3 linked regions of the Homo sapiens genome follow. The protein of the gene in region 1 interacts with the protein of each later gene in a biochemical or structural test. Each region holds a gene or a part of one and is shown on either strand. Other genes may lie near its edges.

Region 1 (3,750 bases):
TTCTCTCCTACTTTCCAATATTCTTTCTTCTAATCTGTTTTTCTTGTTATCTTGAGTTTACAAAATTTCTGGTTTTATTTATGCTGTGGATATTTTTCCAGCCTTTTCCCTATGGGCTGTCTGGGTGCAGGTTATGGGTGATACATGGATAATAGGTGCATCTTGGTTTAGAGGGTAACTCTTTATTTCTTACTGCACTTATGGAACACGAGAAAAAAAAGTATTAAATAATGGCTATGGTAATGGATATCTTTGTCTTATTCCTTACTTTAATGGAATTGCATTTATCATGAACCATGGTGCTGTTATTTCAGATAGCCTTTATCCTGTTAAAATTCTCTGCTGTTTCTAGATAACTACAATGATCTTATGGTTTTCTTCTTTGATCTATAAATATGATGAATATATTGAAAATAGATTTCCTAAGATTGAACCATCTTTGCATTCCTGATAGGAGTCATTATGTATTCACCTTTTAGCAGATAGTTAGAGTCGATTTGGATTGAATGTATTACTGTGGATTGTTCTACTGTAAGTGAGATGATTGACATTGTATCCTTAAGAGCTGTGCAATTCTCATTTTCTAGTCTGCTTCCATTGACTACCTGCATTACTGGTTTCTGAATTGATTCCTAATTAACTACTTCCTGTTTCTCCAAGCTGATGATTTAGTCTCCCTCATCCTTTCTATAGCCAGTTGCATCTTCACTGCTGATTCCCTGCCTCCTTTTCTCCTGTAAGTTCATCTTTTTTTTTTGACGGAGTCTCACTCTGTCGCCCAGGCTGGAGTGCAGTGGCATGATCTTGGCTCACTGCAAGCTCTGCCTCCTGGGTTCATGCCATTCTCCTGCCTGGGCCTCCCAAGTAGGTGGGACCACAGGCACCTGCCACCATGCCTGGCTAATTTTTTTGTATTGTTAGTAGAGACAGGGTTTCACCATGTTAGCCTTATAGCCTCTTTACCTGGGTGTTCTGGAGTCAGGGTGGAGCTGAGCTCTAATGCTGCTGACATTGTTCCAGCCTTCTCTCTATGGGCTGTCTGGGTGCTGGTTATGGGTGATACATGGATAATAGGTGTACCTTGGTTTAGAGGGTAATTCTTCCTTTCTTTAGCTTTTTCTTTTTGAATGGAGGTAAAATTAACGTAACATAAAATTAACCATTAACTGTTTTTAAACGTACAATTCAGTGACATTTATAGAATATTCACAGTGTTGGACAACCATCATCTCTATCTAGTTCTCAGAAATTTTCATCACCTCTAAAAGAAACCCTGTACTCATTAAGCAGTCACTCCCCATTTCCCTTTCCCTCCAGCCTCTGGCAACTATTAATAGTAGTCTACTTTCTGTCTCTATGGATTTACCTGTTTGGGATGTTTCATGTAAATGGAATCATACAATATGTGACCTTTTGTGTTGGGGTACACAAATGTTCATAGCAGCAGTATTCACAACAGCCAAAAAGTGGAAACAACCCAACTATGCATCAACTGCTGAATGGATAAACAAAATGTGGGATATCTATACAATGGAATATTATTCAGTCATGCAAAAAAATGAAGTGCTGATACATGCTATAATGTGGTGAACTTTGAAAACGTTATGCTAAATGAAAGAAGCCAGCCTTTCCTGTGGGCTTTGTGGAAAATAAGCTTAGAAAACTTACAGTTAATCTTGGTATGGGAAGAGCAGTGTAAAAGTCAGAAATCCATTTTTAACCAACACAGACCAGAGTTGACATCTTATCAGCCCATCTCATTTTGTGCACTGCTTCAGCTATGGATGTTAATAAAATTAAATTTCTCACTAAACAAGTGTGATGCCAAAGAACCTTCCACAAGTTCTGCAGCTGTCACTGCTTGGTGCTTAAACATGTTGGACAGTATTAATGCAAAAACTGCTTTTTCTTTTTCAGTAAGAGATGCTAAAAACCTTGTACCTATGGACCCCAATGGCCTGTCAGATCCCTACGTAAAACTGAAACTGATTCCCGATCCCAAAAGTGAGAGCAAACAGAAGACCAAAACCATCAAATGCTCCCTCAACCCTGAGTGGAATGAGACATTTAGATTGTAAGTGGAAATGACTGCAGTGAGCATGGGTGGTGGAGGTTGGGTTATGTGCCACCTGAAATCAGGGAGTTCCTCCTCCCTTAGCTCCTGTTTCCTTCCTTCCCTACCTCCCTCCTTTTCTGTCTTCTCCATCCCTCACTCCTATCTTTCCCTCCCTTCTTTTCCATCTGCAATTTTGTATTGTGAGCCAAGAAAAAAAATTAGAGCTATTTTTTTAATAGAGATGAGAATGCCTGTGGTGTGGGGGAGTGGGTAGGACAGGAAATGGTGTGATGTGTTGCTAAGTGAAGGCAAGTTGTGGGAGAAATGATGGGGCTCAGCAAATAGGGGAACATAACCTACAGGGTGTGGTGACAGCCTCTCTAGAGTTGGGTTTATGGATGATGCTTGGCCTGCAGCCTTCTGGGACATCTCCACCAGCCTCCCTTGAGGGTCTTCCCTGGCCAGGGCTCCAAGAATCTGGGAGTCTCTTTCTTGTACATCTAGGCATCAGGAGTTGGTTATAACAGCCAATTCACTGAGCATATATGATGTGTGACAAACACTGGGTTAAGCGATCCGACTTCATCGGCTCATTTTATTCCCAATGTAGCAATAGGGCTTATAGAGGTTAAAGAGTATGCCCAAAGTCCCATAGCAAATATGGGGTGGAGTGGGATTCAGCTTCTGGCAGTCTGACTTTAGCGGTCATACTTTTTTAGCCACCAGCTAGAAGCACAGTTCCTTGTCCTGTCTCCTCTTCCCTCTCTCAGGGCAAAGCTGGGCCCCTTCTCAGCCTCAGTCAAGGACATGTCTCAGAACAGACAATTTCCCCAGGATTTTTCTCCATGCATTTCCTCAGCCTCATTCTCAACCCACCTGTGTGCAGATATACACATGTACACACCCAATTATGCAATTGATATCTGTATTTCTTATAGGCAATAGGAATTCCTGAATATCCTGAACCCTATTAAGACATAAGATAACAAAAGTAGTTAGAACTGTTCTTGTCATAGCCAGTCTAAGACCTCTGCCTGTTTAAGCCACAGGCTGTCAAACAGAAAAAGCTCTCACTCCCTGGAGAGCTAGCCTGGGATGGAAACTGAATATGTTTCTTTCAGCAGCTTGTAATCTTTAAAACTTTCTACCTCCAGGTCTTGTCCTCTTGTACATTTATTCTGCTTGAGAAATTACTACAACCTCCACTGATGTCTTTTCTTTTTCTCTATGCAGTCAGCTGAAAGAATCGGACAAAGACAGAAGACTGTCAGTAGAGATTTGGGATTGGGATTTGACCAGCAGGAATGACTTCATGGGATCTTTGTCCTTTGGGATTTCTGAACTTCAGAAAGCCAGTGTTGATGGCTGGTAAGTAAGATTTTGCCTTGAAAGCTACCATACAGCTTGCTCCATCAAACGCGGGGTCAAGTATGTTTTCCTTTTTCTCCAAAAATTGAAATACTAAAACAGAGTCCCAAAGTGAAGTCTGGTTGATTGGATCTGCCTTGCAGATATGTTTTGTTTGGTCCTTGTACTAAAAACAAAAAAGAAAGAGGCCAGGCCTCGTGTCTGACACCTGTCATCCCAGCACTCTGGGAGGCCGAGGCAGGTAGATCACTTGAGCTCAGGAGTTTAAGACCAGTCTGGGCAACATGGTGAAACCCCATCTCTATCAAAAACATGAAAAATTAGCT
Region 2 (3,750 bases), on another chromosome or scaffold:
TGAAAGAGAAGAGCCAAGTGACAGAGAATCCCTTCAGAATTGCAGGACATGTCCTCACTCCCACTTGGGGATTGGCTGACAATGCCATCTGTCATCACCAGGACCCTCTAATTCCACCTGCCAATTACCTGAGCTTTCAAGGTAAAACATGTTCAAACTGCTGCCCACTCAGAACTTTTGCACCTGGCAAAAATGTTCAGCCACACTCCTCAGCAATGCTGAGTAACTTATTTAAAGTGAGGGAGGCCAAACATCTTCTGTAGGTGTGCTCTGCTTTCCAGTTCCCAAATGGACTGGATCTCCCCTGGGAAACCAGCCAATTGCATCCACCTCACTTCTGCCCAGATTCTTCCCAAGGCCCCAGAGCTAAGTGAGCAGCTACTTGCGTTGTGAGATCCCAGAGGCGCAGGGTTCCATCCCAGGAGCCTGAGAGGGCAAACTGGCCATCTGAGGAGATAACCACATCACTAACAAAGTGGGAGTGACCCCGCAGAGCACGCTGTGGAATTCCATAGTTGGTCTCATCCCTGGTCAGTTTCCACATGATGATGGTCTTATCTAAAGGAGGTAAAACAGAAGAAAAATCAGTGAGGAACCCGCAGCCCGTTTAACACACTGGATAATTCACTAAGTGTCAAGGTCATGAGTGGGTTAACAACAACTAAGGACGCTTAAGGAGGGATGGAAACAACAGACAAGAGCAGTTACAGACCAGGACTGAGTGGCTCTATTCCAGACTAAAAACGCACGTAGAGGTAAACTGTACCCTGATAACTTTTTTTTTTCTTGAGATGGAGTCTCGCTCTGTCGCCCAGGCTGGAGTGCAGTGGCATGATCTCGGCTCACTCCAAACTCCACCTCCCGTGTTCAAGCAATTCTCCCGCCTCAGCCTCCCAAGTAGCTGGGATTACTTGGCCAGCTGGCACCTGCCAGCACGTCTGGCTAATTTTTTAACTAGAGATGCGGTTTCACCATTGGCCAGGCTAGTCTCTAACTCCTGATCTCAAGTGATCCACTCGCCTCTGCCTTCCAAAGTGCTGGGATTATAGGCGTGAGCCACCGCGCCCAGCCTGTATCCTGAGAACTTAATTTAGGTGCCAGAAATACAGACACCCTTTCCTGAAACTCAGACGAACTCAACAGCCACTTTGTGTCTTCTCTGCAACCAAATGCACAGCAGTTTGTGGCTGTAGAGTAGCTGGGGCCTCCTATGCCTACCTCTGAGGGCCGACAGAAATGTAGTAATGAATGCTGGAAAAGCCACTTCAGGCGCTACAGGATTGGATGCTTTTACTGAAACCTGTCCCACTCAACAAATTTTACGATTAACAGCCAGACATGATTCAAAAGTCAGACAATTCTTAACAGTGTAGCAGCAAAGCGGAAGCACAAGAAGCGTCTAAACGCAGTCAGGAACACAGGGATAGGGACGGGGAGAACCAGGGGCAGAAAAAGTAGGCCGACACTTGAGCCACGAGGTCCTCTGGAGTCCACCTGCCTCCCCACGAGCCTTGGGCCGGGCGGCAGCTCAGAAACAGCCTCTGGATTTCAGCACCGACACTCAGATGGCATGTTGGGGTCATCACCGCCCCGCCCGGCCCGTAGGCCCCCGGCCACACTACGAAGGAGAAGGCAAAAGATATTTTAAAAGTTTCCAACTCTCCAACCCTCCTAGCAGCTGCGAGCTGATGTACACGTAGGTTCTCATCTGCAATGTGGTTCGCCCGGGTTGAGGCCTAGGCTCGGGTCCGCACGCCCCAATTCACAATGGGGCAGAGAAGTCTGTCAGTCCCCGCCAACTCGCGCGCCACCGGCCTGCCACACCACACGCGGAATTCCCTACACGACACGCGGAATCCCCCAGCCCTGCAATCTCGGGTCCTGAAATCTACCTTAGTCCGTACCTCGAGAGGCGGAGAGGATCATGTCCGGGAACTGCGGGGTAGTAGCGATCTGGGTTACCCAGCCGTTGTGGCCCTTGAGGGTGCCACGAAGGGTCATCTGCTCAGTCATGGCGGCGGCGAGAGCGTGTGTCGCTGCAGCGACGAGGATGGCACTGGATGGCTTAGAGAAACTAGCACCACAACCTCTCCTGCCGCCGCCTTGCAGTGAAAGAGAGAGAGAAAAGCCCCCCGCCGGAACCGGAAATACCCGCTCGACCATGCAAAATGGCGAGCCCCATGATACATTTCTGCTCAAGATGGCGGCGCCATGTAATGCAAAAGGCAGAGGGAAATTGCAAGGCATCACAGTCCCGTCTTCCGTACAACAAAATCTGACTGCACTTTACAAATACACTCTGAAACAAGCACATTCAAGTGTTTAAAAAGGCTTCTCAGGGATGATGTAGAGCGAGAAGCGAAAGAGGTGAAGTGTACGGCACATTCCCATGAGGACCGCCGGGCTGCTTCCCCGCCCCTATGTGGCATAGCTCGAGCTCCGCCTGTTCCACTTGGTGCGGGGAGGGTTGACGGGGCAACCCCAGGGGAGCTTAATTTTCATTTCACTATCGTGGGTAACGATGGGCAATTTAAAAAGTAGAGTATTAAAATGTTAAAAATAAACTTTAAAACTGTGCTTCCGGAGGGTGTTCTCCCCTCACGAGGTTTTTGTTCTGATGCACACCAACTCCGGAAGGACTTAGTCCAGGCTGGACTAAGGCAGGAGAGGGTTACTCTGGATGAACTAAGAATTGGTCTCTTTTTCCCGGGCGCGGTGGCTCATGCCTGTAATCCTACCACTTTGAGAGGCCGAGGCGGGTGGATCACTTAAGGTCAGGAGTTCAAGACTAGCCTGGCCAACATGATGCAACCTCTTTCCAAATAAATAAATAAAAAAAATTAAAATTAGCCAGGCGTGGTGGGGGGTGCCTGTAATCCCAGTTACTCGGGAGGCTGAGGCAGGAGAATCCCTTGAACCTGAGAGGCGGAGGTTGCAGTGAACCGAGATCGCGCCACTGCACTCCAGCCTGGGCAGCAGAGCGAGACTCCGACTCAAATAAATAAATACATACATACAATAAAATAATAAAGTAAAAATTGCCCTGTGTGTTGCTAGACTGCCAATCCGTTCCTGCCTAGGCCAGAACACGGGAAGCTCTCGCAGAAACGGAAATGCCCAAAGGAGGACCTTAAGGTTCTGACTTCTGGGGACATCTAGTGGAAAGCTCTCTCTGGGCCCAGCCAGCGTACACAAAAGCCCAGGGGTCTGGGGGTCCAACTGTGCCCTGAAGGACGTGCCCAGACAGGGAAGCGGTGGAACACGGATACCTAACTGTCCTTCTGCCTTCCGCTCGACCGCAGGAATTTAAATAAGTAATGGCTCCCATTCTCACCCATCTCTGACTATAAGAGACAGTGTTGGCACCATGTCTATTCAAGTAGTTTTAAACAGGGGCACAGATCAGGATGATAGCAGCCACCAACATCTATGCAAAATAAAGGGGGCATTATACCTAAGTATATACTTTTCTATTTGTGACATCTATCAACTTTCGTTTCTCATCTGTGAAATGAGATTGGAAATAATATTAGTATCTACATTACATGGTGGTGTGGAAAGTGAAGAAGCAAATGTAAAGCGCCCTGAACAAGGCAGAGTAAATGTTGTGAAACTTAGCACCTCTTGGGTGCCAGGCCTTATTTTAGGTCTTGGGGACACAGCTGTGAACAAGACAGAGGGGGGACCCTGGTTTGTTTTATTTGCAGTTTACTTCCTACGGTATGCGAAGAGGGGAGAACATTGGAACAG
Region 3 (3,750 bases), on another chromosome or scaffold:
ATTTCTATACAAGGCCTATGTCTTCCCCTTTCTATCTTCTGATGTGCCCAACACAGTGTTATGAATAGTCATTCAATGACTTTATTTCAGGAGGTAGGGTAGGAACTATTTCTGTCTTATTTACCTTGTGTATCACAATGCCTATCACATAGTAGGACCAAATAGATACCTGTTGAATATTTACCACTACAATATGTTGAGTTTTTTTTTTTTTTTTTGGTTTTTTTTTTTTTGAGATGGAGTCTCGCTCTATCGCCCAGGTTGGAGTGCAGTGGGGTGATCTCGGCTCACTGCAAGCTCTGCCTCCCAGGTTCATGCCATTCTCCTGCCTCAGCCTCCCCAGTAACTGGGACTACAGGTGCCTGCCACCACACCCGGCTAATTTTTTTTGTATTTTTAGTAGAGACGGGGTTTCACCACGTTAGCCAGGATGGTATAGATCTCCTGACCTTGTGATCCGCCCGCCTCAGCCTCCCAAAGTACTGGGATTACAGGTGTGAGCCACCGTGCCCGGCCACCACTACAGTATTCTAATGGTATGTCAAAGCATTCTTCCTAGGACACTTACCACCACCTCCAACCTGTTTTTCCAGGTGGACTCAGCTGGTGTGGTTATTCCCTTTCTACTTTGTCCCCATTTATAACCTACCACTGGTTTAAGAGGAAAACTTTCCCACTCTGAGTGACATTTGTTAGGCGTATACTAAACCTGAACAATTTACAAATGCATTTTTTTACTTTTGATTAGGATCAAGTCTACTATACCTTTGTAACTTCTGAAGAAAGATGAGAATGGGTCTCTTTGAGGCGTGAAATGGAACTATGACTGAGGCCTCCCACCACTGCCATCAGGGTGTTAAAATTTTTGAGCTGAAGGAGCTTCTGCAATAAAAATGCATCAATGCTTTTTAAGGATTTTCAAATTATTCTAAACTTTCTGAATTACAAGTAAATTTATGCACAATTTTAATAACAAGAAGCTAAGGAAAACATTACATCAATTTAAAATGAAGCACAAATAGAATCAGAGAAATATATCTATTATTTCACAGAGAAATAGCTACATTAAATGCTTCTAAGCATTGCTTTCTGAAAGCAATCTTCTTGCATGACAAAAATACGATTTGTTCATTAGATATCAGCGAGTAGTTTAGTTGTCCGATGCCCTTATACTGTGAACGCCACATTTCCTCAATGACTTTTCTCAACAGAGTGAACGAACATCTAGAACTCAAGAACCCAGTCTGATTACCAGACATACCTTTGCAACATTGATAAACTTTGTGATGACTTCTGCCCTTTGCTGGGGGGTTGGTTTGCTAAGAACCATCAACTGGACCCACTTAGAGATTCCATTAAATAAAGCAATCGATCTTTCCAAGGTTGGATTATTCTCCAGGCAGCCATGGATGACATAGCTTTGGTAATCAGTGAACTAGGAAAGGAAGATTCAGAGACTCTGAATTATAATAGAGCCTTTGTAAAATCAAAAATTAGAATATTGCATAGAAAAGGTGAGATATTGTTTCGTAACAACACAATTTCTTTTATTTCACATTTACAATGGCATCCTAAAAGTTTGAATATACATGTGTCTTTAAAATGTTATTTTGCTGCTTTTCAAACCCCACTACTCACCCCACGCAAAGACACCCACTACTACACATCACAGCTTTGGTGGGAGGAGAAAGAGGCAAGATTCAAAGTTGTATTCCAATGAGTTCAAAATTTACTAGGTGATAAGATTCACCTGTGGCACTTGGTAAAATGCTGGTTCCTGGGAACACTCTAGGTGTAAATGATCACTATCTTCAGAAGAAAAACCTAAGAATCTCCTTTTTTTTTTTTTTTTAACCGACTGTCGCTCTATTGCCAGGCTGGAGTGCAGTGGCGCGATCTCGGCTCACTGCAATCTCCGCCTCCCAGGTTCAAGCAATTCTCCTGCCTCAGCCTCCTGAGTAGCTGGGACTACAGGTGCAAGCTGCCACACCTGGCTAAATTTTTTAGTATTTTTAGTAGAGATGGGGTTTCACCACGTTGGCCAGGAAGGTCTCGATCTCTTGACCTCATGATCTGCCCACCTTGGCCTCCCAAAGTGCTGGGATTAAAGGCGCGCCCGGCCAAGAATCTCCATTTTTAACACACTGCTGGTGATTCCAATCAGGCAAGTTAAAGATATAACGGTATACAATAAAGACGAGGAAATGAACGTAAATATAATTATTTCAAGTTAGCATCAGTTGTAAAGTTGTTTCAAGAAAAAGAAGACAGAAGAAAAAAAATTAATTGAAGTAAGGCTGCTCTTTAGCAAGGCAAACACATTTTCAGAATGTTAGCATGGATGTCAAAAAATACATAAGAGCTTTCTATCATATAAACTGTGCAGGGGACTCCCATGGCCTGCCTGTGGGGAATTGTTAAGGTCCTCTCCAAGTAGGATTACTTAGTGAAAGAATCAGTCTTTCAGAAATTCATGCTTCTAACCAAGACAGTCTTCTTTGCACGCAATAATGTAATTCATTCTCTGACACCTTGGAAAAGGAGGAGGAGCGACTTCCCCACAGCTTGGCGAGACAAAGCAAAGTGGCTGGCTGATTGTGAACCAGTGTGGAAAATGTTTACCATAACGGGAGGAGAGAGAGCAGGAGGCTAAGAAATCACAGACCAGAGAAAGAAAAGGGGGAGTTAGAGAAGGAATGAGGCTCCATCAAGATGAGTAGGAAAGAAAAGTTTAATTCAGGATCTCTATCTCTGGGAAAGAAACAACCTGATGTTGAGATTCTCCTTAAAGTCTACAATTCCTATTTTCAACCTATACCCATAATTAGCCATTTATACAAATCCGAACCTAACTAAATATTTTTTCCCAAAAACGAAGGGCCTAGCAAAACATGTTCACTTGGGAGAAGTCAATGGAGCTAAATCAACCTTGAATGGTTAAATCTCCACTGACTGTTTAGAAAAATCACGCTTTAATCCTATGAAAGGAGACATTGAAAATAGCGACAGAAATATAGCTCCTGAGCCATAAAATAAAGACAGGATAATATTTATCTTTGGTTAAAAGGGATTGTTCCTGTGAATTAAGGGCACTTCTCCAGCAGAGCACAGTGATAGAAGCTGCCAACACTTCAGAGTATGAAAATGCAGCTCTTGGGAAAGTTGGCATGGTGGTTGTTATCCTTGGAAGAATAAATGTCAAGTTTCTTACTGAGATCCTTCTAAAAGATTTATGCTCCAGAAAAGTGAGGTGCTCAGCCAATTCAATGGGCTCCAGATGGTCAAACAGCAGACAGGCTTTTCCCTTCTTGGATACTTTTTTCCTCTGTGTGACTCTTCTCATCCAGTCATAGGAAGGACTATAAAAGAAGAGTGAGTCCGGTCAATGTGTTGAAAGCCCATTTCACTCAATGGAAGTTATTAACCTACTGACTCTGCAACTCTTGGCTTGCTTCCAGGGACTTGTGCAAAATACATGCCCTGTCTTTCATATTGGAAGAGAAAACCACTGACCAGTTGCCAACAGAACATAAACTTGCAGTTGTTTTTCCAGACAGGGTAGGTTTTGCACTGAACCATCCAGAATTTCTTACTTAGTGTCTTTGTGACCGGCAAGGTCTGGATCATACAGGAAAGGTCGGGGCTAGTATATAAATTTGGGAGTTTATCAGGATATAGGTGGTGATTTAAGACACATGGAAACCACTAGAAGCTGTGGTTCTCATACTTTAGTATAACATGAACTATCTG

Evidence for each region.
Region 2: the proteins of PRKCB (region 1) and RACK1 form a complex in vitro, tested with the Homo sapiens proteins (2 studies listed by BioGRID).
Region 3: of the proteins of PRKCB (region 1) and RASGRP3, one has a biochemical effect on the other in vitro, tested with the Homo sapiens proteins (2 studies listed by BioGRID).

Annotation. Positions count from the first base shown.
Region 1 is NC_000016.10:24,090,874-24,094,623, forward strand, and holds part of PRKCB (protein kinase C beta type), read left to right. Parts: intron 1-1,917; coding exon 1,918-2,074; intron 2,075-3,289; coding exon 3,290-3,424; intron 3,425-3,750. UniProt on the Homo sapiens protein: Calcium-activated, phospholipid- and diacylglycerol (DAG)-dependent serine/threonine-protein kinase involved in various cellular processes such as regulation of the B-cell receptor (BCR) signalosome, oxidative stress-induced apoptosis, androgen receptor-dependent transcription regulation, insulin signaling and endothelial cells proliferation.
Region 2 is NC_000005.10:181,241,788-181,245,537, forward strand, and holds the start of RACK1 (small ribosomal subunit protein RACK1), read right to left. Parts: upstream 2,120-3,750; 5' UTR 2,014-2,119; coding exon 1,905-2,013; intron 1,590-1,904; exon of another isoform or gene 1,527-1,589; intron 559-1,526; coding exon 387-558; intron 103-386; exon of another isoform or gene 31-102; intron 1-30. UniProt on the Homo sapiens protein: Scaffolding protein involved in the recruitment, assembly and/or regulation of a variety of signaling molecules. Interacts with a wide variety of proteins and plays a role in many cellular processes.
Region 3 is NC_000002.12:33,521,564-33,525,313, reverse strand, and holds part of RASGRP3 (ras guanyl-releasing protein 3), read right to left. Parts: intron 3,360-3,750; coding exon 3,212-3,359; intron 1,436-3,211; coding exon 1,262-1,435; intron 883-1,261; coding exon 766-882; intron 1-765. UniProt on the Homo sapiens protein: Guanine nucleotide exchange factor (GEF) for Ras and Rap1.